7 separate regions of the Homo sapiens genome follow, and all the other regions are linked to region 1. Evidence: fine-mapped expression QTL. A gene starts in region 1. Each other region holds a variant in brackets. All regions are shown on one strand. Distances are from middle to middle.

Region 1 (4,521 bases):
ATTCCGCAATGCATTAGGCACCACATAAACACACAGACAGAAGCAATTAATACTATGTATGCTGTTATTTGGAAAAAATGATAAATTAGCAACAAACAAATCAGAAAATAACAATGGAACTAAATACTAAATTCTTTCAAGGATTTGGTTTGTTTATTATTAGTATCTTTAAGACAACTGATGGAAAGAACAGAAATGAATGCATCTAAAAAGAAATATCTATAATCCTATTGCATGGCAGTTAAGCATTTGCCTGCCAAGAGAGATAAATGATGTTCTTGTGTGCACTTGAAACTTATAAATGGCTGCAGCAAGACGCAGGATGATAACAGTTGTGCTAAAGTCATAGCTCAGAAAACCATAATAGCTATTTAGTTGCTTTTTGTTGTTAAAAAAATATAGCGTTTGGGGCAATTTGAATACTATTCTGTGTGTCTTTGACATGTTTCTGTTCAAGGATACGTAGGCTATTTCAGCTCACTTACAAATTTCAGTCAATGAGAAGCATAAAGATGACCTTCCAAAATTCTGTTAGTTATTTCCCCCAATGTCTGCACACGGTTAGTTCAGTTTTGTTGTTTAAAATTACTCCACCATGCCATTGTTGAGTCAATGCGGTGGAGAATTCTTCCTTTCCTGATGTGCCACACATTGCAAACTCTCAGGATTTTCTTCAATAACCTCTGCATAATTGTTGAATAGTTTCTCACTGCAGTGGGCTGCGGTATCAAGAAACCTTTAGCCATATGCACATGATGTAGTGCTACCTGTCACCCACTCTGAGTGCTAGAGACCCATGAAGCCTATCCTGGAATTCAGTGCAGCCTACATGCTGCCATTCAAAATTCCCACCTTATGCAGTGTCTCCAAGCAAGGGCCCTTCTGAGTTCAATCCAAAACAACTGAATGAATGAGATGCAACATGTCAACAATTCGAATGTTTATTTTGTTTAAGGAAACCAGCTGTAAACAAAACGTATCTGTTGTTTTCCATGCTTATGAATCTGGCACTAAGAGACTGCATTAACCAATGCCTTTTTAGGTTTAATACTTACACACGGTAATATGTTACTGGCTTTAAGGACATCAATGATTAAGCTTTCATGCAGAGCTGTACGGTTTTGTATAGTTGGAAAACAACACTGATTTTGAGATCACTACAAGCAAATAAAACTTTTATTCCTCCCAATTATTTACCTGCTTTTCAAATTTTTATAAATTTTTATGACACAATTTCTTCAGTCTATTAAATATTCCAAAAAAGAGGCTAATACAGTTGTTATAAGAAACTCCGCAAATGCAGTCAAGTGTTACCTTGTCACTATAATTAAAGTTTTCTTATGCGAGTAAATGAAACAAACAATCCAGCCCCACACAGGGAAAGCCAGCATTGCCTTGGGGGCAGCAGAACGCGGCACAGCACCGCCCGCCAAGGCCGCAAGATGCCGCAGAATGACTGCTGCAGCAGCCGCTTCCTGGCCAGGTGGCCGTGGCCGTCCGCAGAAAGGCACACTGCAGCGCTCTCGCTATACCTTCCGTGCTGGCATTGCATCAGTGTTAAATCCCCTGGCCACCAACTGCCATATACTTTTTGCTGGTTATGAAGAAACGTGGGGAGGGGACAAAGGGGAGACAGAGTGTGCCTGCAAGTGTGAGAGATCACTATTGCCTCACACTCCCTAAAAAATTTCTCCCCCAAATGTTTATAAGCCAAGTACCAACTTACTTCATCTGCCAGGTCCCTAAATCTGAAATCGCCTTGCCCTTCAAATGCACTAAATGAGTCAGGGTTTTAGGGCAAACCCAGGGATACAAGAAGATCGAAAGTGCCCAATTCTTAGCTGCGAGATAAGCACCAAGTTTGGGGTGGAAGAGTTCACCTCTGCCGACCAGAGCGTACTACCCCGGAGCGCTCCTAGTTTAGAGAGGCTTGGAGAGGAGTGGGCCTCCCGTTCCTGGAGTATCCCAATTCCCAGGGAAGGCCCTTCCCGGCGCTCGCGCTTCAGAGTGCGAGGAAACCCCCACAAGCAATAGCTCACCCGGCTGCATTCTTCAAAGCCCCAACCTCGGGGCGGGGCGCAGGGAGGTGGGAGGTGGAGGGTAGCACCGCCGGGAGGCTCCTGTCAGCGCCTCTCGGTTTTCCCCCTGGCTCCTTGGCGCCCCCTGACGACGGGCTCCGCAGCAATTTGGCCGAGGGAGGCTGGATAGGCGGAAGCTCCGGGTGTCCGGGAAGCTAGAGGCACCCGGCCAATGCACCCGCGGACGGCGCGGACTGGCGGGCGGCCCCGCGGGAGGGCGCTGGGCTCTCAGGCCCGGGTGCAGCCCGCGGACGCCGCCGAAACCGCCGCAGCCATGTCCGCGCGCCCGCGCTGCCGCAGCCTGGCCGTGATGTCATCAGCCGAGCCCCCGCCGCGGCGCCCCATTCCCGCCCCCCGCAGGCTGCCGCGGCTGCAGCCTGAGCGCCGCGTCCCCGCCCCGACCCACGTGCGCCCGGCTTCTGGGATGCTGAGGTCGGCGGCGGCCGCAGGACGATGCGCGGGGCCCGGGCGGCCGCGGCGGCGGCGCTGCTCCTCCCCACTCGCCGCGTCCCCGGCGGGGCTGCGCCCGGGGGCTGCGCACGGACGGGGGCGGGGGCGCCTGGGGAGGGAGGGGAGAGGATCCCAGCCGCCGAGTCGCAGCCTCGTCGCTGTCTGCTGAGTCATGGCAAGCGCTCCCCGCAGCCCTGGATCACTCGCGTAGCGCGGCTGGCGCGGGGTGCGCAGCCATTGGGCTGGGCGCGGGGCCGCGAGCGCCAGGCATGACGCGCTGAGCCGCGCTCACCCGTGCCCGCCGTCCCGGCGTGCGCCCAGCGCGGGTGCCTGTGCCGCCGCCCTCCAGCCCCGCCGTCGAGTCGCCCTCGCCTCGCCCGCACCATGATCGCCGCGGCTTTCCTCGTCTTGCTGAGACCCTACAGCATCCAATGTGCCCTCTTCCTCTTGTTGCTTCTGCTGGGCACCATCGCCACCATCGTCTTCTTCTGCTGCTGGCACCGCAAGCTCCAGAAAGGGAGGCATCCGATGAAATCGGTCTTCTCGGGTCGTTCAAGAAGCCGAGGTAAGACACGCCGCGACGGGTTTCTGCGGGCTACCAGGAACAATTAAGCCGATTTGGAGAGTGAAGCGCGGCTCGCTCCCTTCTCCTCGGCTGCCCCTAGCCCCATCATTGCCCACTCCCCAGGCTGAGTGCGTTTCTTTAACGCCCCTTGCCCTTTTTGCCGTCACCTCCGCCCTCCAGTCTCCCAGGTTTGAATAACCACGGCGATGCCGAGGGCAGGGAGGGGAGGAAAGAACTCAAATTTTTAGTCAGTTTGCTAAAGCCTTAAGGGTAATTTGAGCGTAGTCCGGGGCTGCGCCAGCCTCGCCTTCACGCATCCTTCGCTGGAGCGTAGGGGTAAGAAAGTAAGGCATGGAAACTTCGGGGCTCCCCAACTCCCCCAGAACTTTCATGCAAACTTCTCGCGGAGAAATCACGTAGAGACCGATGGCCCCAGGACTCCTCCTCCCTCCCCCAGGATGTCCCACCGAATTCCAGGAGTCTGCGATGTGCTTTCCCAACCCTGGTCTCCCAGGTAAGTCATGAGTCACTCGGTAGGTGAAGAACAAGGAGTTAAATGAAGTCTCATTTATCTCTTTTCTCCCCAGATGCTGTTTTGAGATCGCACCACTTTCGTTCTGAGGTAATTTATTTAGCGCGCACGCTCAAGGTCAGAAGAAGTTCTCTTTCCTGAGTACCAATATTAATTATATGCGTGTTAAGAAACCAGTAGGACACTGAATGACGAACATGCTGTCCCCTAGCCGAAAGTGGCATGTTTCCTTTTAAGTGATTTCATATTAGTGCCCAGCGAACGGTTTTAGCAAATTTCTTGTGTAGTGGAGCTGTTGTACAAGAGGGGAAAAGGCAAACCCTAAAAGTGCTGCAGACCTTAAAAAACTTAGCCACAGGGTGGATGTCACTTGAGTTTACAGTTTATATTTTGCTGGTGGAAGTGTTTTCTGGGTGCTGTCAGTTGACTCTGGTTGTTCACTTGGATAAACGAAGAGGTTAGTGCAGAACAATTTGATCCATATGCATTTCATTTTCGATTTTCAAGTTTACATTTCTGTTTTCTCCTAAAGCTCTCCATGTTTTATTGGGGACCATCTGATGATTTTTGCAAAGCGATGATGGTAGTGTGTGCTTAAATGCTTGTGCTAGTCTCCACTCTCAAAACGTGGACCATCCCTCTAGGGCAAGTAACTCCTAATCACTGCACCCAGGAACCAGCTCCACTGAAGAAACACAAGCGCTCCTTGACCTAGGATTTCTTTAGGAGTTTTCAGGCCAACCTCCACTTATCCTAAGATAATTTCCCCTCTTTTTAGGAAAGTTGCACGCCGCCAGGCTTGGAGGTTGCTGCTTGGTGCAGTTTACTCATGTTGGCAAAGACTTCATAGTTAAACGCCCTCCATTTACCTGAAGTTATCTTGCCTTTCATTTCAT
Region 2 (4,521 bases), 220 kb after region 1:
ATAAATCTCAGTGTTAGACATCTCTAACTGAAATGAAATAAAGAACCATTATGAGACTTGTAATTGGAAAATTAGATGGTGTAATCTGGAATACTCCCTTTTGAAATAACTCCCTTTTGAAATAATGTGTATGGAAAGTGGTGTGATTTACAAAGTCTTCCCAGACTTAAATTATTCTCTGACTCTAGGTTGCTCTCTTGAAGAAAGTTGAAGCCTTTAGAATTCACATTAACTCTTTTCTCATTCCTGTAGCATTGTGGAAGCCTTCTCATGTTAAAGAGCATATTTTGGTATTTGAATGGGACTCATTTAAGTTGATCATGGTTTAAAAGAAGAGGTTTAGGTTGTTCCTGTTAGAAAACAGTATCAGAATTTATGAATTATGTGTGTTATTTAGTCTTTGTATCTTATGTACTTTAGTTACGGATCATAATTCCTAGATATTACCTCAGTAGTACCTACGAAATATCATGTTATTAGCAGTGCTTTTGAGCATCTAGCACAACAACAACAACAAAACCTCATTGATCAAAAGAACCTTTGTATAGTAAGTACCTCTGTACTTAGAGGTAAATTATTTGATTAAATCAGCTTTCTTAATATACTGCTTTGGTAAGTAATTAGCCAATTTATCTATAGAATCTGTTTTACCTCATGTTCCTTGAACTATAGGACCAGTTTTTATTCACTTAGAAAAGAAGAAATCTATTTTGTTAACCCTTTTTTACCCAAGAAGAAAATAGTTTATATAATACACATAATAGATTAAATTTATTTTGTGACTTATATGGAAACTCTATTCTTGAATTATAAAGATTTTTAATATATTATTAATTTTTTTTTCTTGAGGATTTAGCATCAGGGGCCTTGGTTGTTATTTAATGGGAATAATATGGATATTACCTAGGAAGTAATTTTTTTCATTTACTCTGTTTTCTTTTTGCTGGATGCTTAGAACATCACTGCTGAAAATGTGATATGAGTGCTAGACTTTGGCACAGAACTTCCATTGTTTGCAATCAGTTGTCCAAAGTTCACATCACATCACAGAGCCAGATTCCCCAGCTCCCTGTCTGTGACTGAGATGTGGTCAGCACTTCCATTTGAAAAATGACAGTATCTTGGGGATAGTGGAAGCAACCTTGTAGGGAAACATAAGAGTTGGGTCCTAACCAAGGCTCTTTCAATGTTAAATGATTAAGTCAGAGATTCTTTTTAGTGGAGAAATTGACACATGGCTGGCTTCTGTTTTGCTACCCTACTTCCTGTCCTTTAAGCCCCACCTGACTGCCCTGGATGAGGTTGGTCCTTCTCTCTTTTGTGCTTGCATACATGGTGAGTGCCATGTACTTCTCTCAACTGGTGTGCTTACCACACTGCCTTTCTGTCAGGTGTCCTCTCCAGGTCATGAGCTTCAGAAACCAAGACTAGTGCTTTCTCTGCAGCCTGGTGGTCTCAGTGTTACAGGACAGGGGTCCAGATTCAAACCCCAAGAGAGGGTTCTTGGATCTCTTGCCAGAGAGAATTCAGGGTGAGTCCACAGAATAAAGTGAAAGCAAGTTTATTAAGAAAGTAGGCCAGGTGCGGTGGCTCACGCCTGGCCTACACTTTGTAATCCCAACACTTTGGGAGGCCGAGGCGGGAGGATCACCTGAGGTCAGGAGTTTGGAACCAACCTGGCTAACATGGCGAAACCCTGTCTAAAATACAAACATTAGCCAGGTGTGTTGG[C/T]GCATGCCTGTGATCCCAGCTACTCAGGAGGCTGAGACAAGAGAATCCCTTGAACCTGGGAGGCGGAGGTTGTAGCGAGCTGAGAATAAAGAATGGCTACTCCATAGACATAGCAGCCCTGAGGGCTGCTGGTTGCTCATTTTTGTGGTTATTTCTTGATGATATGCTAAACAAGGGGTGGATTATTCATGCCTCCTCCTTGTAGACCATATAGGGTAGCTTCCTGACATTGCCATGGGATTTGTAAACTGTCATGGCGCTGGTGGGAATGTCATAGTGAGGACGACCAGAGGTCACTCTCGTTGCCATTTTGGTTTTGGTGGGTTTTAGTCAGCATCTTTACTGCAATCTGTTTTATTAGCAAGGTCTTTATGACCTGTATCTTGTGCTGACCTCCTATCTCAACCTGTGACTTAGAATGCCTTAACCATCTGGGAATGCAGCCCAGTAGGTCTCAGCTTCCTTTTACCTAGCTCCTATTCAAGATGGAGTTGCTCTAGTTCACACCCCTCTGACACCAGCACCACCATAGCACTGGACTCATTAAATGACCAGATAGATGCTAGGATGAAGAGTGAGTAAATGAGGGAAGTACAGAATCTGCACTTATCAGTGAAGAGAACTAGTAAATTGTTTCTGTTTCCTTGTTCTTGCTTTACCAACAAATTGGTAATTTAGGTTCATTTTGAACTGTCTAGGAATAGCAAGGCCGAAAGACATTTAGGACACCATTATTGCTTTAAGAGATATAGTTGTATATACTACTGTATATATGTATACAAGTAATTCTACATTGTTTTCCTCAGTTGGATTGTCCTTCCTGAAATAAAATTATTTCACACAATGGGCATCTATCTGTTGAGCGCATAGAGGCATTGCAGCATAGAGGCTTTGTGGCATCTAGTATGTGGTAGACAAAGATGAATGAGGTATAGATGATGCCCCTAAGGGGCCAATAGAGGAATTAATAAATATTTTGTGGATAATATTATTGGTTCATAATTATTAATATCATTGCTTTTGATAGCAGTTTTAAGCAAAGTGCCTGGGGGTTTTACACTTGGAATGAGGCAAATAAAATAATTTTAGGGTCAGACACAGTGGTTCACGCCTATAATCCCAGCACTCTGGGAGGCTGAAGCAGGTGGATGGCGTGAGCTTAGGTGTTCAAGACCAGCCTGGGCAACATGACGAAACCCCATCTCTGCAAAAAATGCAAAAATTCACCAAGCGTGGTGACATGCACCTGTAGTCCCAACTCCTTGGGAGGCTGAGGTGAGAGGATCATTTGAGTCCAGGGACGTGGAGGTTGCAGTAAGCCAAGATTGTGCCACTGTAGTCCAGCCTGGGCAACAGAGCGAGACTGTCTCAAACAAAACAAAGATAAAACCAGGCCAGACTCGGTGTCTCACGCCTGTAATCCCAGCACTTTGGGAGGCTGAGGCGGGCCGATCACGAGGTCAGGAGATTGAGACCATCCTGGCTAACACGGTGAAACCCCATCTGTACTAAAAATACAAAAAATTAGCCAAGCGTGGTGGCACATGCCTGTAGTCCCAGCTACTCGGGAGGCTGAGGCAGGAGAATCGCTTGCACCTGGGAGGCGGAGGTTGTAGTGAGCTGAGATCATGCCGTTGCACTCCAGCCTGGACAGCAGAGCAAGATTTTGTCTCAAAAAAAAATTTTAGTATAAATTCTGAGCATTTATATTCAGAATTAGCAAACTACTTCTACTGTCTGGGAATGCTTTCTGCACCCCTTTATCTAATTTTTAAATAAGAAGTAGATTAGAAGTTGGGGGCACTGAAAAGGTATTATAGGCAGAATCAAAAGATGGGCTGTATATAAGTACCTTTTTTTTCTCCCTGACAGTGATAGGAAATGGAAGGTGTTTCAATGAGGTACTTTGGAGAAGAAATGCTTATGAAATAAAAAGTACGTTATATGTTCCTCCCCCCCATTCTTATTGGCATTAAAGTAGGAGAACTCTAAATGATAATACTATCACTGAGTAGTCTTACAACAAGTTGAATTTGAACAGACCATTGTATCACTTTACTAAAATTTCCTTATTTCCTTTTCTCGAACATTTGTGTTTTTTCAGAATTTTTATTTTCCTATTGTAAGCACTCTGATTTATATTCTCATAGTTACATTTTGTACATAATATGATTATAACTTCAGAATAGATTTTAGAAGTAGATTTGCTGGGAAAGGTCGTAGGTATTTTTAGGGCTTTTTATGTATATTAACAAATTGTTGTACAGCAGTGTTGTCCAGTAGAGCTTTGTTTTAGAGCAGTGCTGTCTGACAGAAACTTCTGTGATGATGGGATTATTCTATATCAAATTATTCTAAAGTAGCGCTGTCCAGTAGAGCTTTGTTCTAGAGCAGTGCTGTCTGATAGGAATTTCCGTGATGATTAGAATGTTCTATTTCTCTGCTTTTCAATATGTTAGCCATTAGCTACATGTGACTGTCAAGCACTTAAATTGTGACTAGTGCAACAAAGAAACTGAATTGTTAATTGTATTTTGCTTTAATTAACTTTGGTTTAAACTTAAATAGGTGTATGTGACTAGTGGCTACAGTACTGAACAACGCAGGTCTAGAAAGTTTAAATTAAATTACATTTTCATCAGCAATATGTGTGTCTGTTTCTTGTGTCCTTTTCAACATGAAATTTTTTAAAAAATAAAATCTTGGCAATTTGGTAAGTTAGAAAGCTTTATCTGTGTTACTTTATATTATTATTTTTTGTTAGTGAGATTGAGTACCTGTGTGCATTAC
Region 3 (4,521 bases), 21 kb after region 1:
CTTGTTACTTTTCTCTTTTTATTTATTTACCCTTTAGAAAATCTTGTAGGATTTTGACAGTTGGTAAGATGATGCTGGTAGAGATGTGTATTGCTACATATAACTCATGAAATACTGAAGATTCCATTTATTTTACCATTATACAAATTTTTTAGGAATCAAACATCAATAGATTATTCATTTTGGAAAAGTTTCTTTTCTTATTTTTTTGGTCCAATCTCATTATTCTTTTTGTTTTTCTTTTTTCTCTTTTTGAGACAGAGTCTCGTTCTGTCACCAGGCTGGAGTGCAGTGGTGTGATCTCGGCTCACTGCAACCTCTGCCTCCCGGGTTCAAGCAATTCTCCTGCCTCAGCCTCCTGAGTAGCTGGGACTACAGGCACGCACCACCATGCCCAGCTAATTTTTGTATTTTAGTAGAGACGGGTTTTCACCATGTTGGCCAGGATGGTCTCGATCTCTTGACCTCGTGATCCGCCCACTTTGGCCTCCCAAAGTGCTGGGATTACAGGTGTGAGCTACCGTGCCCGGCAATCTCATTATTCTTTATATTTTCTGCATTTGTCTCCAACTTCTGTACATAAAATAGATTGAGGTTAAAGAACTACTTGCAGATTTTAAAGAAAACAATATGTATCACTTCATATTTACTGATGAGTTTACAAAGAGTAGAAATTTCACATTAAGAAGTAATTAAGCAGTAGACCATTAACAAGTTTTAAATAACTAACTGACCAACTTTGAAGAATCATTAAAAGAACATTAAATAGTATATTCCTGCTACTGCCCACTCTGCAGTGAGCTGCACGCAGCAGGCAGCAGGCAGTTGCGAGCATTTCAGACTGATCTAGAGTGTGACTGCCTCTTGTTTTAAAAACGGTTGTGGGGCATCCCAAAGTGAATCCCAAATACATTCTTAATTGTTTAGACTCTCTTGAAATATTTGGATTACCTAGCTGTATGTCTGAATCATCAGCTGTTCTGGGTGGGAGATAAAATTGGGAAATTTTGGCTGGCTACTGCTATATTACAATTTCTCTAGAAACTTCAGTTAATAATGGACTCAAGCATGCCTTGAGCTGTTCGCCGAGAAACTATGGCAACGGGCCTTTTAATTAAAGCTGAAGTAGTGTGTGTAGCTTAGGAAAACGGAGATACTGCCAATTGATAGGGTGACAGTATGGGAATCATCCATGAAGCTAACAAGAAATTTCTTTTTAGATATATTTAGTTAACTCTTTTTTACCTAAGTTGCTCAAAGAAACACTAGTAAACTCTTTTAGTGGACATCAATATTTGGCTTTGGAATATGTTACAATATTTTTTAAAGAATATATAGCTTCCTAATTTTTTTTAAGAATAATATTAAAATTATTTTGTGTTTTCTGAGTATATGTTAAACTGAGAGTTGGAAGTTATTGGAAGGGTCAGCCTAGAGGCATCCTTAATGTCAGAGGGCAGCCAATCTGAGATAGTTCACAAAACCAATGATCTCTCCATTTTGGTGATGGAGACATTAGTGTGCCTTAATTCTCTCTCTCCATGTCATATTCTCTCTCTCTCTCTCCCCTCCTTCTCTCTCTCTCACGATATATATATATATATATATATATATATAATATAATATATAATATGTATATTTTATATGTATATAAAAGTGCACTAGTGGGCTGATGATTGACAAATTAGTAAACTGTCCCCCTCTTGAGCTAACGCATTTCCAGGCAGTGTGCTGGAATTTATAAGCCCAGACCATAACAAAAGTGATTTATTATTGTTAGCTTTCCAAATTAAAAAAATAAAAACTAAGTAGAAAAGCAACAGTTGCCATTTTTTGAGGGTCAAGTATGTGTTATGCTAACAACCCCCAGTGATGGGCAGATTCTATTAGCCCTTTGGTAGGGGCTGAGGAGGGGGAGAATTTGAGTTTAAGTCTGTTGTTTTAGCATCCCATCTTAAAAAGTGTCCCTGTTTGAGGATAAATTGCAGTCACCTGGTGAAGGCAATCGCTAGAAAGATGAGTAGCATCTAATTAAATAAAATGTTCTACTTAGGAGGCTGAGATGGGAAGATTTTTAGAAGCCAGGAGTTTGTGACCAGCCTGAGCAGCATGGTGAGATCCCCATCTCTAAAAAATAAAAAATATATATATGTATATAAAATAAAACAAAATGTAATAGTGACAAATGTAAAAGCCCTTAAGCCAGAGACAATGTAGGAATTGGCTCTTACAAAAGCCTGTTATCTGGTTTCCTTGGCTTTGGGTTTCAGTTCACTTTTTATGATACTGTTGGCAGAGTAAGCTATCTGAAATAAGATCTGATCTTCCACTCCTTTTGCTTAATGGCTTTTCTTTGCTTAATGGCTTCCCGTTGCTTACAGGATAAGTACACCCTTTCTTGGTATCAGCTCCCACATACCTCTAATGCACACCTTAAACTCAAACAAGACCCAGCTGCTTGGTTCCCTACCCCATTCTGTTTTCATGCCATTGCTCATGCTGGAACCCCTCTATTCTACTTTTTTGTTGTTGTT[G/A]CAAACTCCCATTTCTACTTAAAAATGAGGATTAAACATCATTTTCTTCCTTTCTTTATCTCACATTCTTCCCTTAGTCTTCCTGGACATTCTCCCCTCTTGTTATTGAACTGAACTAACTGGGGCCTGCTCACCTGGCACGGTAAGGCCAAACATCCACACTGAGGTTTGCAGTGGAAGAAAGGAGGGCATTTATTTGCAGGGTGCCAAGCAAGGAGAATAGTGCAGCTTATGCTGAAAGACCTGATCTCCTCAATGGCTTGCAAGTCGAGTTCTTAAAGGCATGGTTAAGTTTTAGGAAAGCAGAAGTTACAGACAAAATCATAAATCAATATGCAGAGGTTACACATTGGTTTGGCCTACAAAGGGTGGGATATCTTGAAGTGGGGGCAGGTCATAGGTAGATTAAAAGATTTTCTGTTTTGCAATTGGTTAAGGAAGGGAAGCTTTGTTTAAGATCTGGGTCAGCAGAAAAGATTGTTAGCTCTGGTTTCTGGTGTGACTTCTTTCAGGACCATCAGGAAGAAATTTACAGCAAAGAGAAGTGGTCAGAGATCAGTCCTCAGTTCCTCCTATCTGAGGTCTACATGCTGTTCGGTGGGGGTCTGGGTTTCTGAAAAACAACTCAGGAACATATGTTAAGATTTTATCTTTACTTTCTATAGAGAACCAAACATTGTATTATTTTAACTTCCTGGGAGATTGTTTTAAGCTACTATTACCTTCTTGCTTATCTAGTTGCTCATTTATTTCTCAGGGAGACCTAGGTACCTGGAAATTCCCTTGAAGGAACTCAGGATTTTCTATTATTTCTATGCTTGGGACCCACAGACCCCTAAGAAGTGTCCCTGCTCCATCTCACTCTGGGACTGGATGAGGGCACCAGATATGGGGATTTACACACCAAGGCAGGTGGTATGTAATTTTTATCTTGTATCCATAGCCTTGTGTGGCATCTGGCATGGAATAGGCACTTACTATTTGTTGAATATTTGATGTTGGCTAAATATTTGATGTATATAGGAATGGAATTAAGTGAGTAAACTAGAGTTACCAGGCATATTTGAGAAAATACAGAGTAGTTGAACTTCAGTTCAGCTGTTTTCCCTCCTCCTTCTCTCCCACCCTTCTCTTGCCTCCCGGCTGCCTGTTCCTCCTATGCCTGTTCTGTGGCTTTCCAGAATACCCTGGTCAAGGAATTGCTCTTCCCTTAAATGCCCCTCTATTAGTCCACTTCCATTCTGCTGATAAAGACAAACTTGAGACTAGGTTTGGAAGACTTTTTCTGGAAGAAAAAGAGGTTTAATTGGATTTAAAGTTCACATGGCTGGGGAGGCCTCAGAATCATGGCGGGAAGCAAAAGGCACTTCTTACATGTTGGTGGCAAGAGAAAATGAGAGAGAAGCAAAAGCAGAAACCCCCCATAAAACCATCAGATCTCCTGAAGCTTATTTACTACCACGAGAACAGTCTGGGGGAAACCACCCCCATGATTCAAATTATCTCCCACTGGATCCTTCCCACAACACATGGGAATTATGGGAGTACAATTCAAGATGAGATTCGGGTGGGGACACAGAGCCAAACCATATCATTCAGCCCCTGGCCCCTCCTAATCTCATGTCCTCACGTTTCAAAACCAATCCTGTCCTCACATTTCAAAACCAATCATGCCTTCCCAGCAGTCCCCCAAAGTCTTAACTCATTTCAGCATTAACCCGAAAGTCCAAAGTCTCATCTGAGACAAGGCAAATCTCTTCTGCCTATGAGCCTGTAGAATCAAAAGCAAGCTAGTTACTTCTTAGATACAATGGGGTTACAGGTATTGGGTAAATACAGCAGTTCCAAATGGGAGGAATTGGCCAAAACAAAGTGGTTACAAAGGCCCATGCAAGTCCAAAATCCAGCAGGGCAGTCAAATTTTAAAGCTCCGAAATGATCTTCTGTGACTCCAGGTCTCACATCCAGGTCACACTGATGCAAGAGG
Region 4 (4,521 bases), 67 kb after region 1:
AACTAAAAATTTATCCTGATTTCCTCTCAGTACATATGTATTTGGATTTATACTGTATATTAAGATATGTCACTAGGATGCTTAGGAATTTTTTTTACCATCTTGAAACAGAAAAGATAATTAGATCCAGATCTCCATTTATTCCTTAGTATTTTCACATTACAAAGCATTTTGTTTTGTTTCTGAATCCCAGGATTTTTAAACATCATCATCATCATCATAAGAACTCTTGCATTACTGCATGTTTACCTCATTGACAATACATGGGCATTGTTCTCTGCACTCTTCTCTGTTTTTCTCTCATTTTATCTTCTCAGCGATTCTCTGGAGTCGGTGCTCACTTTCCAGGGAGGAAATGTGTCAAGGTCATACAGCTGGTAGATCATGGAGTTAACATTTAAACCTAGGCACTCTTGGCTTGAGCCGTTTTTGAGTAAGGAATGGAGAACTCCCCATGATTACAATTCTAGTGCTAGACATTTATCCTCATCAGCCTTCCTGAAGTATTTTAATTACTTTGAGTCTCATTTTTCTAACTGCATAGATGGTAGATATGGATGAAATCTTTGTGTTTTTAAACTATTACATCAATTAAAACCTATCTTTAAAATGGTATTGAAAACCATAGGTAAACCTCAAACATCATTTTTGCCATCATTTTATTGGCAAAATTGGCCCCCTCTTTCTGTGGCAGGGCACCTAGGAGGTAGCAAGAAGTAAGCAAGAGTAATTTTGCCCTACTGCCTGCTCACATGAACCTGTTAATGTACAACTTTCAGACCCAAAAAGTATTTATGTGTTTGAGATTGGGGGTGGGTATGGGGAAATAACAGTTTTAGAGCATCAGGAAATAATCAAACATACTGACTCTACTCCTGTTACATTTCACTGATTCCAGTTTTTTGCACACTGCAACAGCATTGCCTGCATTTCCTGGTGACTTAGAATCTTTGAGACTTTCTCACTGAGCTGAAAAAGTATAATTAAAAATTGCTAGTGTTCCCAGGTTATTGCCAAAGCTGCAGCTTGTTCTCCCTGCTGGCAAAATCTTAGCCTCTGAGCACCTGTTTTCTTACTTTTGGGCTCCCACCACCATCAAGCAATGGGATTTTTGAACCTGACAGTTTTGACTGAGGAGTTGGAGGACATATGGGCCTAACACAGGTGATTGGGTGATCCTCTTTTCTGAAATGGTAAGCACAAAGGAAGAAGCAGGTTTGGATTGAGGATTGGAAAGAAAATTTTCTGATTTGGATATGTGAAGTTTGAAATAACTATTAGATATTCTTGTGTCTGGATTTCATGGAAGATGTGAGAATTATTTGTACATAGATGTTATTAAATCTATAAGACTGGGTGGGATGACTCCGAAAATGAATTTGATAGAGAAGAGAAGACACTTGAGGTCTGAGCCTTGGAGTCTGCCAGTGATGAGAGTTTGGGAAGAGGACTGAGGATCGCTTATAACTTCCAACTCTTCACTCAGAAATATAAATGCCTTAAGCAGACATGGGTCTAGGTAGCTCTTGACTTTGATTTAAGGCTATTCATTTTAGGCCAAGAAAAGGCCACTCAGGTAGAGACTAGAGAAAATAGCAGGAAATGAAGTCCCAGATGTACTCATTAGATTTTCCCTTCCCTGAACTCTCC[C/T]CAACTAAACCACCACTTCCTTGACCTCACCCTTCTTTTCCTTCTGTTGTGGGTTTCTGTTTTTCAGTCTTGGGGAAATTTTCTGTTTTTCTGATTACAGCTTAGGTTTTTGTAAGGCTGCAGTATATTTTGGAACATTATATAGCTTTAATTTGTAATAATTAAATTAACCAGATTTTGTCATATTTGTAGTTGGGAACTTTTTGGAGTGTAGGAAAGACTTAAGCATATATCCTTGATCTCTTGAAAATATAGCAGGGTGTTTCTGTGTTCCTTTCCTGCTTAGATTATTAAAATGGTCTTCCTTTTCCCTTTCCTTTTCAAATATGTAGGACCAGGCAGCTCTATGTGCATAACCTTAGGATATTTCCCCTTTTGTGGAAGGCATAACTGTACAACTCATACCTTACTTTGGCTAATTAACTAGCAAATCCAAAGCTCTTAGAGGAAACATTTGTTTCCTTTTCCCCTTTGGAATTCTGGAGAATGAATTGATTAATAAAGTCAAATTTCTTTTGCTAATTATCTGAAAAGAATTTTTTTGAATGACACCCATTCAATGTACTGAGTCTTTGCTACATATTGCTGTACCTCCCTTTTTAGGTTCATAATTAATAGAATTTTATAAAAGATTTCATTTATGGCCAGGTGTGGTGGTTCACGTCTGTAATCCCAGCACACTGGGAGGCTGAGGCGGGCGGATCACGAGGTCAAGAGATTGAGACCATCCCAGCCAACATGGTGAAACCCGTCTCTACTAAAAATACAAAACTTAGCTGGGCATGGTGGCACGTGCCTGTAGTCTCAGCTACTTGGGAGGCTGAGGCAGGAGAATCGCTTGAACCCGGGAGGCAGAGGTTGCAGTGAGCCGAGATCGCACTGCTGCACTCCAGCCTGGTAACAGAGCGAGACTCCATCTCAAAAAAAAAAAAAAAAGATTTCATTTATTATAGGCTTGCTATAATAAATTACAGTAAGGTATTGGAATAATTAATGCACAGGGGCACAAGAATGTGCAAGGTAGGTAGACTGTATTGAATGAACAGTTTAGTCTCTATAAACAACTCATGAAACCAAGATTAACTTGGTAAAGGGATTCATGTGTTCTGCTTGGAGAAAAATAAGCATGTGTTCATAACTCATGATTCTTTTTTGAGGTCAGTATTTTGACTGAAGCAAGACCTCTTGCCATTCTTTCTATGTCTTTCTTGTATGTGATGACAACCTGTTGTCTTAAATAAAAAAAACCTTAAATTCTTTAATCTCCAAACCAAGGAAACTTAAAGAAAACATTTAGATAGTCACTTACACTTTGAAAATTTTCATGGACAACTATGGATCAAAGGACTGAAAAGAAAGCCCCTTCAAAGATGGTCTAGTTTATTATTTCACCTCTAACCAAAGAAATCCTTAAATTGCTCTGGTAAGATGGGTATAGCTTCCTTTATTTTAAAGGACACAGCCATAGCTTACCTCAGAATTCTGTTTGGAATTTAACAGCCATCTCTGCCTGAAACAACTCCTTGATCTTTGCCCTAAATCCCATGCCTTACAATTTAAGACCATTTCTTATTGTGGTATCCTCTGTGGAGAGGATGAAGCATAGCCACCTGCTACCGTGTCACTCTCAGTCTTTGTGAATCAAAGAATGTTAAAGCTTGAGGGGATCTTAGAGCTCATCTGACTTAACAGTTTTTGTAATGCTAGATTCCTCTCTGCTTCAGTACTTTTAGTGATACAATCTCCTACCATTAAATAGTGCTAATTAGCAGCAAGTTAATTGTACTTGAAAATCAATAAATTGTTTCTTTTCTAGGCTCATGGTTCTATCTCTCTGAACTTTTCTCCTAAGTCTAATTCTTAATTTTTCCAAACATCATTTTTGTTTTACTCTTCTAAACCACCTCCAAGTGAGTGATAAGGGTCTGATTTCTCTCAATATTTTCTGTCTCTCTCTCTTTATTTATTTATTTTAGTTCTGAGATGATGATTGTGTTTCAAAAAAATCAATCTATGGAAATTGAACAAAATTTAGTTTGTGCTTTGGGAGATGAGAATTCAGTTCTAGAAATGACAGTAATGTTTCAGGAATTTTTTTTTTTTTTTTTTTTTTGAGACTGAGTTTCACTCTCATTGCCTAGGCTGGAGTGCAATGGCACGATCTCCGGCTCACCGCAAACTCCACCTCCTGGGTTCAAGCAATTCTCCTGCCTCAGCCTCCCGAGCAGCTGGGATTACAGGCATGTGCCACCACACCCAGCTAATTTTGTATTTTTAGTAGAGACGGGGTTTCTCCATGTTGGTCAGGGTGGTCTCGAACTCCTAACCTCAGGTGATCTGCCCGCCTCGGCCTCCCAAAATGCTGGGATTACAGGCGTGAGCCACCATGCCTGGCTGTTTCAGGAAAATTATAGCTTTGGAGTAGTACTTCGTAGTTAAGTAGCACTTCATACTTTCAAAGACTGCTCATATTCATTATCTCCTGAACAAACACCCTGTGTGTTGGGTATGGCATATATTATTGATCCAGTTTGACAAAACTAAACCTCAGTGAGTAGGTGATTGGCTTAAGTTCATAAGGTCAGTTAGAAGCAGACCTCTCTCATCCTTGCAGTCTGTTGTCTCCTGTGTTTATCCTATGTTTATTTAGTCTTTATCTCTGACAATGCTTAGAGAATTGGGTGAGAACTTCCAGGGAGAAGAATATAGATTCCATTTGACTGGAGGAATTATTCAGTATCCCAATGTGACTCATTCCCAGGGAGTAGCTTTACATCTTTGAGAGTCTGCTCACAGCCTGCATTATCTGTGTTGGCCACCCTAGGCTACCTGTGTATTGGCAAGTCCACTTTGGTCTAATACTATCAAGCC
Region 5 (4,521 bases), 170 kb after region 1:
GCGGCAGCGAGGCTGGCGGAGGGGCGCCTGCCATTGCCCAGGCTTGCTTAGGTAAACAAAGCAGCCTGGAAGATCGAACTGGGTGGAGCCCACCACAGCTCAAGGAGGCCTGCCTGCCTCTGTAGGCTCCACCTCTGGGGGCAGGGCACAGACAAAAAGACAGCAGTAACCTCTGCAGACTTAAATGTCCCTGTCTGACAGCTTTGAGGAGAGCAGTGGTTCTCCCAGCACTCAGCTGGAGATCTGATAATGGGCAGACTGCCTCCTCAGGTGGGTCCCCGAGCAGCCTAACTGGGAGGCACCCCCCAGTAGGGGCAGACTGACACCTCGCACGGCCGGGTACTCCTCTGAGACAAAACTTCCAGAGGAACGATCAGACAGCAGCATTCGCGGATCACGAAAATCCGCGGTTCTGCAGACACTGCCGCTGATACCCAGGCAAACAGGGTCTGGAGTGGACCTCTAGCAAATTCCAACAGACCTGCAGCTGAGGGTCCTGTCTGTTAGAAGGAAAACTAACAAACAGAAAGGACATCCACACCAAAAACCCATCTGTACATCACCATCATCAAAGACCAAAAGCGGATAAAACCATAAAGATGGGGAAAAAAACAGAGCAGAAAAACTGGAAACTCTAAAAAGCAGAGCGCCTCTCCTCCTCCAAAGGAACGCAGTTCCTCACCAGCAACGGAACAAAGCTGGATGGAGAATGACTTTGACGAGTTGAGAGAAGAAGGCTTCAGACGATCAAACTACTCCGAGCTACAGGAGGAAATTCAAACCAAAGGCAAAGAAGTTGAAAACTCTGAAAAAACTTTAGACGAATATATAACTACAATAACCAATACAGAGAAGTGCTTAAAGGAGCTGATGGAGCTGAAAGCCAAGGCTCGAGAACTACGTGAAGAATGCAGAAGCCTCAGGAGCTGATGCGATCAACTGGAAGAAAGGGTATCAGCGATGGAAGATTAAATGAATGAAATGAAGCAAGAAGGGAAGTTTAGAGAAAAAAGAATAAAAAGAAATGAACAAAGCCTCCAAGAAATATGGGACTATGTGAAAAGACCAAATCTGCGTCTGATCAGTGTACCTGAAAGTGACGGGGAGAATGGAACCAAGTTGGAAAACACTCTGCAGGATATTATCCAGGAGAACTTCCCCAATCTAGCAAGGCAGGCCAACATTCAGATTCAGGAAATACAGAGAACGCCACAAAGATACTCCTTGAGAGGAGTAACTCCAAGACACGTAATTGTCACATTCACCAAAGTTGAAATGAAGGAAAAAATGTTAAGGAGAACCAGAGAGAAAGGTCAAGTTACCCACAAAGGGAAGCTCATCAGACTAACAGCAGATCTCTCGGCAGAAACTCTACAAGCCAGAAGAGAGTGGGGGCCAATATTCAACATTCTTAAAGAAAAGAATTTTCAACCCAGAATTTCATATCCAGCCAAACTAAGCTTCATAAGTGAAGGAGAAATAAAATCCTTTACAGACAAGCAAATGCTGAGAGATTTTGTCACCACCAGGCCTGCCCTAAAAGAGCGCCTGAAGGAAGCACTAAACATGGAAAGGCACAACAGGTACCAGCCGCTGCAAAATCAAGCCAAAATGTAAAGACCATTGAGACTAGGAAGAAACTGCATCAACTAACGAGCAAAATAACCAGCTAACATCATAATGACAGGATCAGGTTCACACATAACAATATTAACTTTAAATGTAAATGGACTAAATGCTCCAATTAAAAGACACAGACTGGCAAATTGGATCAAGAGTCAAGACCCATCAGTGTGCTGTATTCAGGAAACCCATCTCACGTGCAGAGACACACATAGGCTCAAAATAAAAGGATGGAGGAAGATCTACCAAGCAAATGGAAAACAAAAAAAGGCAGGGGCTGCAATCCTAGTCTCTGGTAAAACAGACTTTAAACCAACAAAGATCAAAAGAGACAAAGAAGGCCATTAC[G/A]TAATGGTAAAGGGATCAATTCAACAAGAAGAGCTAACTATCCTAAATATATATGCACCCAATACAGGAGCACCCAGATTCATAAAGCAAGTCCTGAGTGACCTACAAGGAGACTTAGACTCCCACACAATAATAATGGGAGACTTTAACACCCCACTGTCAACATTAGACAGATCAATGAGACAGAAAGTTAACAAGGATACCCAGGAATTGGACTCAGCTCTGCACCAAGCAGACGTAATAGACATCTACAGAACTCTCCACCCCAAATCAACAGAATATACATTTTTTTCAGCACCACACCACACCTATTCCAAAACTGACCACATAGTTGGAAGTAAAGCTCTCCTCAGCAAATGTAAAAGAACAGAAATTATAACAAACTGTCTCTCAGACCACAGTGCAATCAAACTAGAACTCAGGATTAAGAAACTCACTCAAAACCGCTCAACTGCATGGAAACTGAACAACCTGCTCCTGAATGACTACTGGGTACCTAACGAAATGAAGGCAGTAATAAAGATGTTCTTTGAAACCAACGAGAACAAAGTCACAACATACCAGAATCTCTGGGACACATTCAAAGCAGTGTGTAGAGGGAAATTTATAGCACTAAATGCCCACAAGAGAAAGCAGGAAAGATCCAAAATTGATACCCTAACATCACAATTAAAAGAACTAGAGAAGCAAGAGCAAACACATTCAAAAGCTAACAGAAGGCAAGAAATAACGAAAATCAGAGCAGAACTGAAGGAAATAGAGACACAAAAAACCCTTCAAAAAATTAATGAATCCAGGAGCTGGTTTTTTGAAAGGATCAACAAAATTGATAGACCGCTAGCAAGACTAATAAAGAAAAAAAGACAGAAGAATCAAATAGATGCAATAAAAAATGATAAAGGGGATATCACCACCAATCCCACAGAAATACAAACTACCATCAGAGAATACTACAAACACCTCTATGCAAATAAACTAGAAAATCTAGAAGAAATGGATAAATTCCTCAACACATGCACTCTCCCAAGACTAAACCAGGAAGAAGTTGAATCTCTGAATAGACCAATAACAGGCTCTGAAATTGTGGCAATAATCAATAGCTTACCAACCAAAAAGAGTCCAGGACCAGATGGATTCACAGCCGAATTCTACCAGAGGTACAAGGAGGAGCTGGTACCATTCCTTCTGAAACTAGTCCAATCAATAGAAAAAGAGGGAATCCTCCCTCACTCATTTTGTGAGGCCAGCATCATCCTGATCCCAAAGCCGGGCAGAGACACAACCAAAAAAGAGAATTTTAGACCAATATCCTTGATGAACATTGATGCAAAAATCCTCAATAAAATACTGGCAAACCGAATCCAGCAGCACATCGAAAAGCTTATCCACCATGATCAAGTGGGTTTCATCCCTGGGATGCAAGGCTGGTTCAATATACGCAAATCAATAAATGTAATGCAGCATATAAACAGAACCAAAGACAAAAACCACATGATTATCTCAATAGATGCAGAAAAGGCCTTTGACAAAATTCAACAACTCTTCATGCTAAAAACTGTCAATAAATTAGGTATTGATGGGATGTATCTCAAAATAATAAGAGCTATCTATGACAGACCCACAGCCAATATCATACTGAATGGGCAAAAACTGGAAGCATTCCCTTTGAAAACTGGCACAAGACAGGGATGCCCTCTCTCACCACTCCTATTCAACATAGTGTTGAAAGTTCTGGCCAGGGCAATTAGGCAGGAAAAGGAAATAAAGGGTATTCAATTAGGAAAGGAGGAAGTCAAATTGTCCCTGTTTGCAGACGACATGATTGTATATCTAGAAAACCCCATTGTCTCAGCCTAAAATCTCCTTAAGCTGATAAGCAACTTCAGCAAAGTCTCAGGATACAAAATCAATGTACAAAAATCACAAGCATTCTTGTACACCAATAACAGACAAACAGAGAGCCAAATCATGAGTGAACTCCCATTCACAGTTGCTTCCAAGAGAATAAAATACTTAGGAATCCAACTTACAAGGGACGTGAAGGACCTCTTCAAGGAGAACTACAAACCACTGCTCAATGAAATAAAAGAGGATACAAACGAATGGAAGAACATTCCATGCTCATGGGTAGGAAGAATCAATATCTTGAAAATGGCCATACTGCCCAAGGTAGTTTATAGATTCAATGCCATCCCCATCAAGCTACCAATGACTTTCTTCACAGAATTGGAAAAAACTACTTTAAAGTTCATATGGAATCAAAAAGCCCGCATCACCAAGTCAATCCTAAGCCGAAAGAACAAAGCTGGAGGCATCACGCTACCTGACTTCAAACAATACTACAAGGCTACAGTAACCAAAACAGCATGGTACTGGTACCAAAACAGAGATATAGATCAATGGACAGAACAGAGCCCTCAGAAATAACACCACATATCTACAACTATCTGATCTTTGACAAACCTGAGAAAAACAAGCAATGGGGAAAGGATTCCCTATTTAATAAATGGTGCTGGGAAAACTGGCAACCATATGTAGAAAGCTGAAACT
Region 6 (4,521 bases), 580 kb after region 1:
AGCTCCAAATTTAGGGGTAGTCTGGGTTATATGCCAGATCCCCAGCTGCAAAGGCATATGGGAAATCAAACATCTGACATTTTCAGTTTTTATACTGGGAGGGCACACGCCTCACCAAGAGTTATGAGGCAGGAAATTCCCTAAACATAGAGAGGAGTTCCAGATGCTACAGAACAAAAGAATGACCAATACCATTACAACAGCCACCTTCCCTATCATGGGAGAACTGGACTGCAGAATTAAGCCAACATAAAGGAGGGAGAAAAACCAAGAGATGGAGAGACAGACAAAGCCCAGATGACATTATTGAAGCCTCTGAATCTAGATGTTCCTGAAGCTTTTTTCCCCCCACTCCAGCCTTACATAAGCTGATAAATTCCCTTTTTGGCTTTAGTTACATACTCCCTTATGAGTTGAGCGTCTGTCACTTGTAAACAAGAAATTCCTGCCTTATATGGTGCTGTGTTCATTATTAGTGTAGAAATCATATTCTTGCTTCTTTATTGGGGCATTTTTACAGAGTTCTCCCTGCCAATACTTTCTGAATACTCTTGATGCGTTGACACATGGACAAGCCTGAGTGAGGAGGAAGAGAACCACCATTCCTGTCAGCCAGCCTGGTAGGTTGGCCAGTCTCTCCTTGTCCTGTGTAAATGCTTTCTCAGATCAAATTATCCAGATTTTCTCTAATTTTGCTCCTGTCTCCTGTATTTCAAGGAATACTGTTCTCAGCTAATGAGAGCATGAAATCCATGCTCTATGTCCAGTTGCAGGGTCAAAGTGTCTGCTTTGACTGTCTCTAAGATTTGTGGATTTGTACAGGAATCCATTTGTAAACATTTGATTAGAAGCCGGCTCCTTCCTCTCCAGGAGTTGGCATATCTCTGGCCCTGTTGAATTAGTGTTCTGGTGTAGGACACACCTCAAGGATTTATTCTCTGGGGGAATAAACATCTTGGAGCTGTCCCCTCATTTTCTGGGGCACAATACTTGTTGCCTTGTCCCCCTTCACTTTGCTAAGCACCTCTGGCCTCCCTGTTTCTTGGGTCCAACCCAGTCACAAGGGGACTCAGCCCAGCTCTGTGGAGCAGGGACTTGGGTGTGGATTCTGGAAACTCCTTTCTGCTTGTCCGATCATCTTCACTTCTCTGATGGCCCAGGGAGCTGAGGCCTTTAGGGGTTTAGCCCAGGAGAAATAGATGAAAGGTCAAGGAATTCAAATAACATATGAATGGAAAGTCTAAGGTCTTCTTGGCACCCAAAATGGTACCCACTTCTCCTGAATGGCTCAGACACTCCTGTGGATATAGTGTTCTTTCATCTGATGTCAATGAGAGGCTGAACTGCAGATTCTGCATGTCTCTGGCACTTCTTGGATTTATGAGGATGGGCCCCTCTACTCAAACTGCCCTTTCCTGGGGAACCCTGAGAAGTTCCAGTCTACCCAGGAGCTGGTGAACAGGCAGAAGAGGAAAGGCCTGGGATGGTCCACGTGAATGGGGGGAACTTGGGTTGAAGGCCGATATCTCTTCACCTTGGTTGCCCCTGAGGTGGGGCTGGGCACCTGACTCTCCTGGCATGCCCTTAAGCTGATAAAGCATTGGTCATCAGAATGCAGCAGATTGGGCTGTGATTCCTTGTCATTTAGATGAGCTGAAGCCAAACAACTCATAAGATGTCTCTTATCTTACCCTATCCCAGTGTACAAATGTAGTCCCTAAATCCTCTTTCTGCATTAGGATTTTCAGTGAATCTACTGAATAAATAGCAGATGCTGAAGAACTGAGTGACGATACATTTTTAACTTTTCAAACAGCAACTTGATGGCATTTAACTTCTCTTGAAGCTTCCAGACTCTGGAATATATCACACTTATTGGCTGAATTTCCCTTTGAACCTGGAGGGTTTTCAGCAGACATGAGTAACTGGTGAGCAGAAGTTGTGGTCAGCATGTGGTGCAGATCCTAGAGGAAG[G/T]GAAAGCAGGTTTTTAAGATGATCATTCAATTCTTCAAGGCATTTCCTTTTTCCATAAAAAGATTATATATTAACCTGATTAGAAATATGTAAATAAGCTGCCTCCTTCCTTTTATTTTCATCTGTTGCTCTGCAAAATCCATTCTTTTTCTGGGAATGGAAGGAACTGATGTAATTGTTCTGTGTGGAGGACAATGAAGAGCTATTGGATCTTTGCCAAGTACATTTCCTGCCAGGGCCTGTTCCTGCACTCAGTTTAATTATGAGCAATTGTTTGGGCTGTGATGTGAAGAAATATTAGAGAATGGAAAAAAAGAAGACCAGAGTTCAGAATATTATGCTACAACTGATTCATGTTTTGGCAAGAACTCTTAACTAGATTTTATGCTTTCGCCTTGTGATGGTATCATAGGGAGCAGCTTTGCCATATAAGCACATAAAGCCCAATTGTACGGTTTATTTTGAAAAGGTCCAAGTAAAAGCATTTGAAAAATGCAGGAATAACACCAGCTATAGGATAGAGTTCTGTGTTAATCATGTGCAGTGCCCTCACAGAGGGACCGCAGTTATTTTAAACTGCATGTTAACACCACCTGTATTTAGCTGGTGTGTCAAATTTTATTGCTTAGCTTTTCATATATTTGACAAATCTCACATTTTACAGAGAGGCTCTGATTAATTCTCACGGTGTGTGCTCAGAGAGGGACGTGATGCCGGTGGAAGCTGAACTCTGAGGAAGGCCGGGAACAGAGACAGGTTTTTCCAGATCGGGATCTGAATCAGGCAATCCAGGAGCCTAGTGTCCTCAAGCGGCCACTGCTGGGAACGTGAATGTAGGCGAGGACCTGGAGATCAGACTCCATGTGGGCCGTTGACCTTTTCTGTTTTTTTGATTAATAAAGGAAAAGACAAATACAGAAAAGCATAACAAGAAATTTAAAGTAGCCTAAAATCTCACCACCTAGAGATAACGCCTATATGGCCTCAAGTCTTTTTCTAGCTTATGTTTACACGTAAGCATATATTTTTGAATAATTACAACCATTCAACATAAACTGTTTTGTATGATACTTTTCCAATTAAAATATATCATGAGCATTTCCCTTGCTTTTAATTCAAATGAAAGAAGTTTTAGTAGCTGAGTGTGATTACCTTTAATAGCTGTACATTCACTCTGAATATCAATTGGTTTTGTATAAATATTTACTGTGGCTGTTTTAATTAGTTTCTGTTTGAATATCATTGAGGTTGAGCAATTTTTTCGTATTTATGGCCATTTATGTGATTCTTCTTTGGCGAATTGGCTATTTACATCCTTTGCCCATATTTCTATGATGGAGACATTGAATTAATTCTAATTGATTTAAAAGATCTCTCTCTGTTGAACACATTAACTCCTTTTATCATATCTTATAAAAAAAGTTTTCACAATTGTTTCCTTTCTTATCTTGTTCAGGATTCTTTTAAGATGGGAAGATTTACATTCTTTTGCAGTCACATACATCAGTTTTTTTTCTTTATTTTTTTTCTACCTTTATGTCCAGAAAAGCCTCTGGGTCTCAACATCAGACACTTTTTTTATCAATATTTTGATTCTTTCATGGACACAATTTTACATAACACCCTCTCACATCTTAGATTTCTTTTGCTGTGTGATATGTAGGATGGTTTTTGATGGGTCCTGCGTTTATCTAGTATTCATTTTGTTTTGAATTGACTTATGGCTATTCTTACCCTGTTATCAGACTGCTTGAACTATTATAACTTTATAGTATGCCTTCATTATCTTCTAGGGTAAGTCCTTCCACTTTTTACTAGTATTTCCATCTTTAAAAAGCCACCAATGATTAAAATAACACTTTTACTTAAGTGTTTTGAATTGAATTTTGTCTTTTGGCTATAGTTAGGAAAGATGACCAAAACAATTGGTTCTCGATATTCAGCTAATAGTAGATACTCTGGATTCATACTTAGTATTTATTTGCATTGATTTCTAAGCAATCTGTACTCCACCTAGCTTGTTTCCAAAGATGGCAGAAAATACCATGCTGCCCATTCTACAGATAGAGTCTCAGCAGTGAGCATATTACATTTTTAATGGAGAAATTATGTGGACATTTTTCTACTGAAATAGTCACAGTTAAATAAAATGAATGGTATACCAGCATCCAGCATATATTTGAAGACTGCTGTAGAAGATTAAAAATTAGAGACCATTGAAAATTTCTCTTCCTCAGCACCACTGAGAATAGGAACAGGAAATGTCCCAAGCGACACTTGCTCACAGAGAATTAATGATAGGAAGTGACCTTGAAGCTTCGTTCCCAAGAAATATAAACAAACTTTCCCTGGCAGCCAATGGCAGATAACTCTGAAACAAAAGGAATGTAAGTGAATTTTAAGGGGGGTGAGGAGAAGAGGTTGTGGAGTAAGAACCTGGTTCCAACCATGACCAACTGGAATTTTAATCAAATAACAAAGTGGTCACTGCCCTGGATAGCCACTGTTGTGCTCTTAACCGAGATTTTCTTCTAACTGTAGACAAAT
Region 7 (4,521 bases), 110 kb after region 1:
GACTTAATTGCTAACCCTTTTATTTCAAGAAGGTGTCCCATATGATGCCTGGTTGTTACTTTATGAACTAATGTGCATACAAATGCATATCGAGCTGTAAGAAAACTCTAGTAACCTTAAAGACTTACTGGGACAGTGGTTCAAACTCAGATTATAAACCAGTGGTCAGGATAGAAAAAAGAGATGTGGTCTTGCTTTGTTTGGAGTAACAGAAGTAGGCCAATTGCTGAGGAGTGCTCCAGTTCTATCTCAAGTCAGTTTTTTTTTCCCACGAGTACACAATTTTTTCTTTCAAGAGGAACTCATCCCTATCTAAGCATTAATGGAAAATGGTCCATAGTTCACAACACCCAACGCTAACAAAGAAATAAAAAATCATGGAGGGCAAAAGGTCAGTATATGTGAAAGGAGGAAATAGGGAAGGAAGATTTAGACAAGACGTGAAGTTGACATAGGTCAGACTGTCAACAATCAGCTGATTTATCTAATAATAGCAGTAGCAATGAGGTATCATCCTGTCACTGTACTCCAGCCTGGATGACAGAGTGAGACCCCACCTCCTAAATAAAGTAGTAGGTGCAGCAGCTAATCCTTATATAACACCAGACATTATTCTAAACTTCATTTACTATACAACTTTATGAGTTAGGCACTACTATCGCTGTTTTACTGATGAAGAGAGTCTCAGAGAGGATAAGTAACTTGCCCATGTGACACAGTAAGGAGTGAAGATTCTATGTACAGCAGCCTGACTTCACTGTTTTTTTTTTTTTTGAGACGGAGTCTTGCTCTGTCGCCCAGGCTGGAATACGGTGGCGTGATCTCGGCTCACTGCAACCTCCACCTCCCGGGTTCAAGCAGTTCTCTGCCTCAACCTCCCGAGTAGCTGGGATTATAGGTACCCGCCACCACGCCCGGCTAAATTTTGTATTTTTAGTAGAGACGGGATTTCACCATTTTGGCCAGGCTGGTCTTGAACTCCTGACCTCGTGATCCACCCGCCTCGGCCTCCCAAAGTGCTGGGATTACAGGCGTGAGACACCGCGCCCGGCCAGTCATTACTCTTAAACACATCCATTTACATGCCTGGGTATCAGTTGGTTCCTCCAATGGACGCTTAAACTCACCCACTTTAGTATATGATACACATATATCTAATTTAAGGGAACTGTATCCATTTTACTCAGTTTAATGGATACTAGTACTATGTAGAATGAATAATAAGGAGAGAGCAGGAGGGAGGTGATAAATATGGGGCAGTTGTGAACCTATAGGCCCGCCGCGGAGCCCAGCAGCAGATGCGCCTGTGGGCTCTGGGGGGCAGAAGGGAGGGACCGCAGGCTGGTACTCGGCAGCCTCGCGGCGGCCGGGAGCTCAGGCGCAGGCGCGGCCCGGCTGTCAGGCGCTGATGCGCGGGGCCACCTGCAGAGGCCTCCTCACCCTGTCCCCGGGATGTCCCCTAGACGCGGACCCCCGTGCCCTCCTTGCCCTGTGCTGTCACAGAGTGACCTGAATCCTCCCACGCCAAAAAGATGGGTGGAAGAAAGTATTTCCAACCCTCCCCCCGATCATCCCTTACCCAGGGAGAGCCGCTGGCCCCTCAGCAGGGGGCTGCGCACAGCGGTGGAGCGATCTGCGGCTTTGTTTCTCAGGCACCTGTTGTGGATCCCAAATAGAAACGTCGCCCTTGGGGATCCGGGACCGGGCAGCCAGTGTCCGGGGGTGGGCGTGCTTGGCCGCACGGTCCACCAGGGTGGGCGGGCCTGGGGAGGGGGCCTGGGGCGCGTGGCTCTGCCTGGGAGGGAGGGGCCGAGAGGCGCCGGGGCCGGAGCTGAGCCAGCCGGGGCGCTGACCGCCGCGCTCGCCCCCTCCCTTCCGCCCTCCGCCCTCCACCCTCCACCCTCCACCCTCCACTCTCCACCCTCCACCCTCC[A/T]CCCTCCTCCCTCCCTCTCTCCCCGGCGCGGGCGAGTGTCTGCGGCGCGGCGGCCAGGAAATGCCGCAGATGCGCCGCGCAGCATCCCCGGTGAAGGCAGCGCGCCGGTCCTCCCGCACCGCTGCCGCGGCCTCGGCCCGGCCCGAAGCACGCGCCTCGTGCAGGGCCAGCAGAGCGGTCAGCGCGGCCGCAGAGGGTCCGGGCGCCCGCCGGCCCCCGCCCGCCCTCGCCGCACGCCCCGCTCCTCCGCTTGGCGTGGCGCTGCTCGTCGCCGCCCCTGGGCTCGCTGAGATTTGCCGCTGCTGAAACCCGAGAGGGACTCGGGCTCCCGGAGCCGGGCGGCCCACCATCGGCCTGCCCGGAGGCCTGGGCGTTTCCTTTGCCGGCCCTGGCGCCGGCAGCCCCCTGCGCCCCCGCTCTGCGTCTTCGGCTTCCGTGCTTCTCCCCAGCGTGCTGCTCCTTCCTCTTTTCCAGTTCCCAAGGCTGTGTCTTGCTGACTGCGATACTGTCCGGGGGTTACGAGGGGGAGAGGGGAATTTGTCAGTCATCGCTTAGATAAACTTCGGCATGGCGGGTTACCTCTCCCCTGCTGCTTACCTGTACGTGGAGGAGCAGGAGTATCTCCAGGCCTACGAGGATGTCCTGGAGAGGTACAAAGGTATGTGGTCCCTGCCCTGGGGCTGCGGAGCTTGGCACTGATCAGAGAGGCAACCGCTGCCTTTCCTTAATCAGAGCCACCACTCCTTGGGCACGAGTAAACAGGTGTCTGGACCAGTCTTGGGAATGGACCAGGTCTTTTTGCACGGGATTTAGTACCCCCAGCGCAGGGAGGATGGTGGGGTGGGCGACAGTCCGGAGACGCCCTTAGATGAGCGGTAGAGAGGGGGGAAGGGGGTTGTTTCCAAGAAGCACATTGCGTTTTCTCTCCCTTGTAAAAGCTCTTAAGCACTACGCGTAATCATAATTCTTCCTGGGAGGGTGGATACCGATTATTCTCTATGGGATTACTAAGGCATTGCTGCTGCTGCTTGGCTAGGGTATTGGTTAGCCCTGTAGAAAAGGTTCAGCATCACTAGATCATTTTCCTTAAAATGATCTTTCTTATTTGATAAAGTTTGTGACTATATACTTACTCTGATATATTGTAAAAATTATTTTATAGCGTGATGGATAAAAGACTTTAGTGAGTTTGTTGTAAATTTAAATGTAAAGAATGTATTTTGAGATTTTTTTCTGCCCATCCTTTATGTTCAGGAAATTCTATGCCAATCTGATATTTATGTTTTAGTATAATGTTTACTTGGACTTCATAGTTGAATATAATGATGAAATACAAATTGCAGCTGTCCATTTTTTAAGTGTTTTTGTGTCTGGAAATGTATTTTTAAGTGTGTGTATACCATCTTTTTATTGTGGCTCCCAAAACACTCCGAACTCAAGAGCAGCTCACAGAGGTTTAAAGTATTTATAGTGAATAGTGACCCATTTCATAGGTAGGATTCAGATGGTTTTATATCTTTTGAATATTTGCTTTGGGTTTGGTAACTCAATGTCAGTAATTTCAGTGGTATTATATGGTTAATGATGCATGTAGTTTTTCTATTAGTAGAAAGTAGAAATAAAAAAAAATTGAACTAAACAATAAAATTCCAAAGCCCCAAAAAGCCCAAATACACTCACAATTGTTTTCTCTCTTTGTAGGATATGTTTTATAACCGAAATTCTTGCAATCCTTGTAGAATTTTGTAAACAGTACAATGAGAATTCCTTTGTGCCAAGACTCTTATTGTGTATAATACTGCCACTGAGCAAGTGCAGTGATATTTTAGGCTAAAGCACATTTGTGACATTTGTGTGTGTGTGTGTGTGTATGTGGGTGGGTGGGTAATATACTCATGTTTACCTGCATCACTCCATTTTAAAGTAAGGTTTGTAATTAGTTGTTTCCAGAGCTTTGAAAAGGAGAAATATTGCAATATAGACCAACAAACCTTATTGAAGAAATACATCTGTGCTCTATACAGTCAGAAATAAAAAAATCTGAAAGTTCTAAAGTAGATACATTTTATACTTTTGAAAAAAATTATAGCTGAATGAATTTTTGTCACATGAAGTTTTACTTAAGTGACACGTGGGTGATTTCAGGTGACTGAAAACGAGTGCTTATTTGACTTTGTCTAAAAGAAGTAGGCATTGTTTAAAAGCTTGTCTTTGCCTTTGGAAATAAAAGGAAATTAAAGATCTGAAGGCCAGTGTACAACAATCAGTATTGCCCTTAAACAGATACATTTTCAAACATATTGTTCAGACGTCACTGAAAAAATGATGGGAGTTTTCCTCATTTTTACTTAAGGTTTTTAAAATGCTTAGTTCATCAATTTGTACTTGGGCTTTATAGCTGTGCTATGTTTCATTTAGTCATGGAAAGGAAAGTAAGAGTATTGGGCAGTGTATTCCATGAAAAGCTGGAGACCTGGAAAACTCATTGTTTCCCGATGTGTTTTGAAGCCAGTTATGATTTCCCATCAGTATCCAGTATGATGACTTCACTACACTGCTTATTATCCTGGTGACTTGCTGTGGGGACT

What was found. PIP is the estimated chance that this variant, and not a neighbour inherited with it, causes the effect.
Region 2: its variant is fine-mapped to the expression of DST in whole blood (TOPMed, PIP 0.98).
Region 3: its variant is fine-mapped to the expression of DST in whole blood (TOPMed, PIP 0.96).
Region 4: its variant is fine-mapped to the expression of DST in whole blood (TOPMed, PIP 0.98).
Region 5: its variant is fine-mapped to the expression of DST in whole blood (TOPMed, PIP above 0.99).
Region 6: its variant is fine-mapped to the expression of DST in whole blood (TOPMed, PIP above 0.99).
Region 7: its variant is fine-mapped to the expression of DST in blood mononuclear cells (TOPMed, PIP above 0.99).

The regions. Positions count from the first base shown.
Region 1 is chr6:56,952,979-56,957,499 of GRCh38, reverse strand. It overlaps DST (dystonin), which reads left to right and starts at 2,670. Exons shown (of 104, transcript NM_001374736.1): 1 at 2,670-3,093; 2 at 3,681-3,715. The coding sequence starts at 2,913. BEND6 (BEN domain containing 6) reads right to left here and starts at 2,393. Exons shown (of 7, transcript NM_152731.3): 1 at 2,040-2,393. RefSeq lists a silencer at 2,205-2,894 and an enhancer at 3,056-3,687.
Region 2 is chr6:56,737,222-56,741,742 of GRCh38, reverse strand. All of the region lies in intron 4 of DST (dystonin), which reads left to right. Among named protein-coding and RNA genes, the nearest start is that of DST-AS1, 100 kb to the left of the region's middle. The variant C/T (reference allele first, on the strand shown) is at 1,732.
Region 3 is chr6:56,931,657-56,936,177 of GRCh38, reverse strand. All of the region lies in intron 2 of DST (dystonin), which reads left to right. Among named protein-coding and RNA genes, the nearest start is that of DST, 21 kb to the left of the region's middle. The variant G/A (reference allele first, on the strand shown) is at 2,535.
Region 4 is chr6:56,886,019-56,890,539 of GRCh38, reverse strand. The region is part of intron 3 of DST (dystonin); the gene reads left to right. Among named protein-coding and RNA genes, the nearest start is that of DST-AS1, 44 kb to the right of the region's middle. RefSeq lists a cis regulatory region at 2,907 and an enhancer at 2,823-2,992. The variant C/T (reference allele first, on the strand shown) is at 1,651.
Region 5 is chr6:56,780,925-56,785,445 of GRCh38, reverse strand. All of the region lies in intron 4 of DST (dystonin), which reads left to right. Among named protein-coding and RNA genes, the nearest start is that of DST-AS1, 61 kb to the left of the region's middle. The variant G/A (reference allele first, on the strand shown) is at 1,972.
Region 6 is chr6:56,368,482-56,373,002 of GRCh38, reverse strand. It overlaps a transcript of COL21A1 not described here. Among named protein-coding and RNA genes, the nearest start is that of COL21A1, 120 kb to the right of the region's middle. The variant G/T (reference allele first, on the strand shown) is at 1,975.
Region 7 is chr6:56,841,125-56,845,645 of GRCh38, reverse strand. The region is part of intron 4 of DST (dystonin); the gene reads left to right. It overlaps DST-AS1 (DST antisense RNA 1), which reads right to left and starts at 1,660. Exons shown (of 4, transcript NR_125866.1): 1 at 1,580-1,660. RefSeq lists silencers at 1,238-1,377, 1,718-1,917, 2,008-2,267 and enhancers at 1,351-2,218, 2,219-3,087. The variant A/T (reference allele first, on the strand shown) is at 1,934.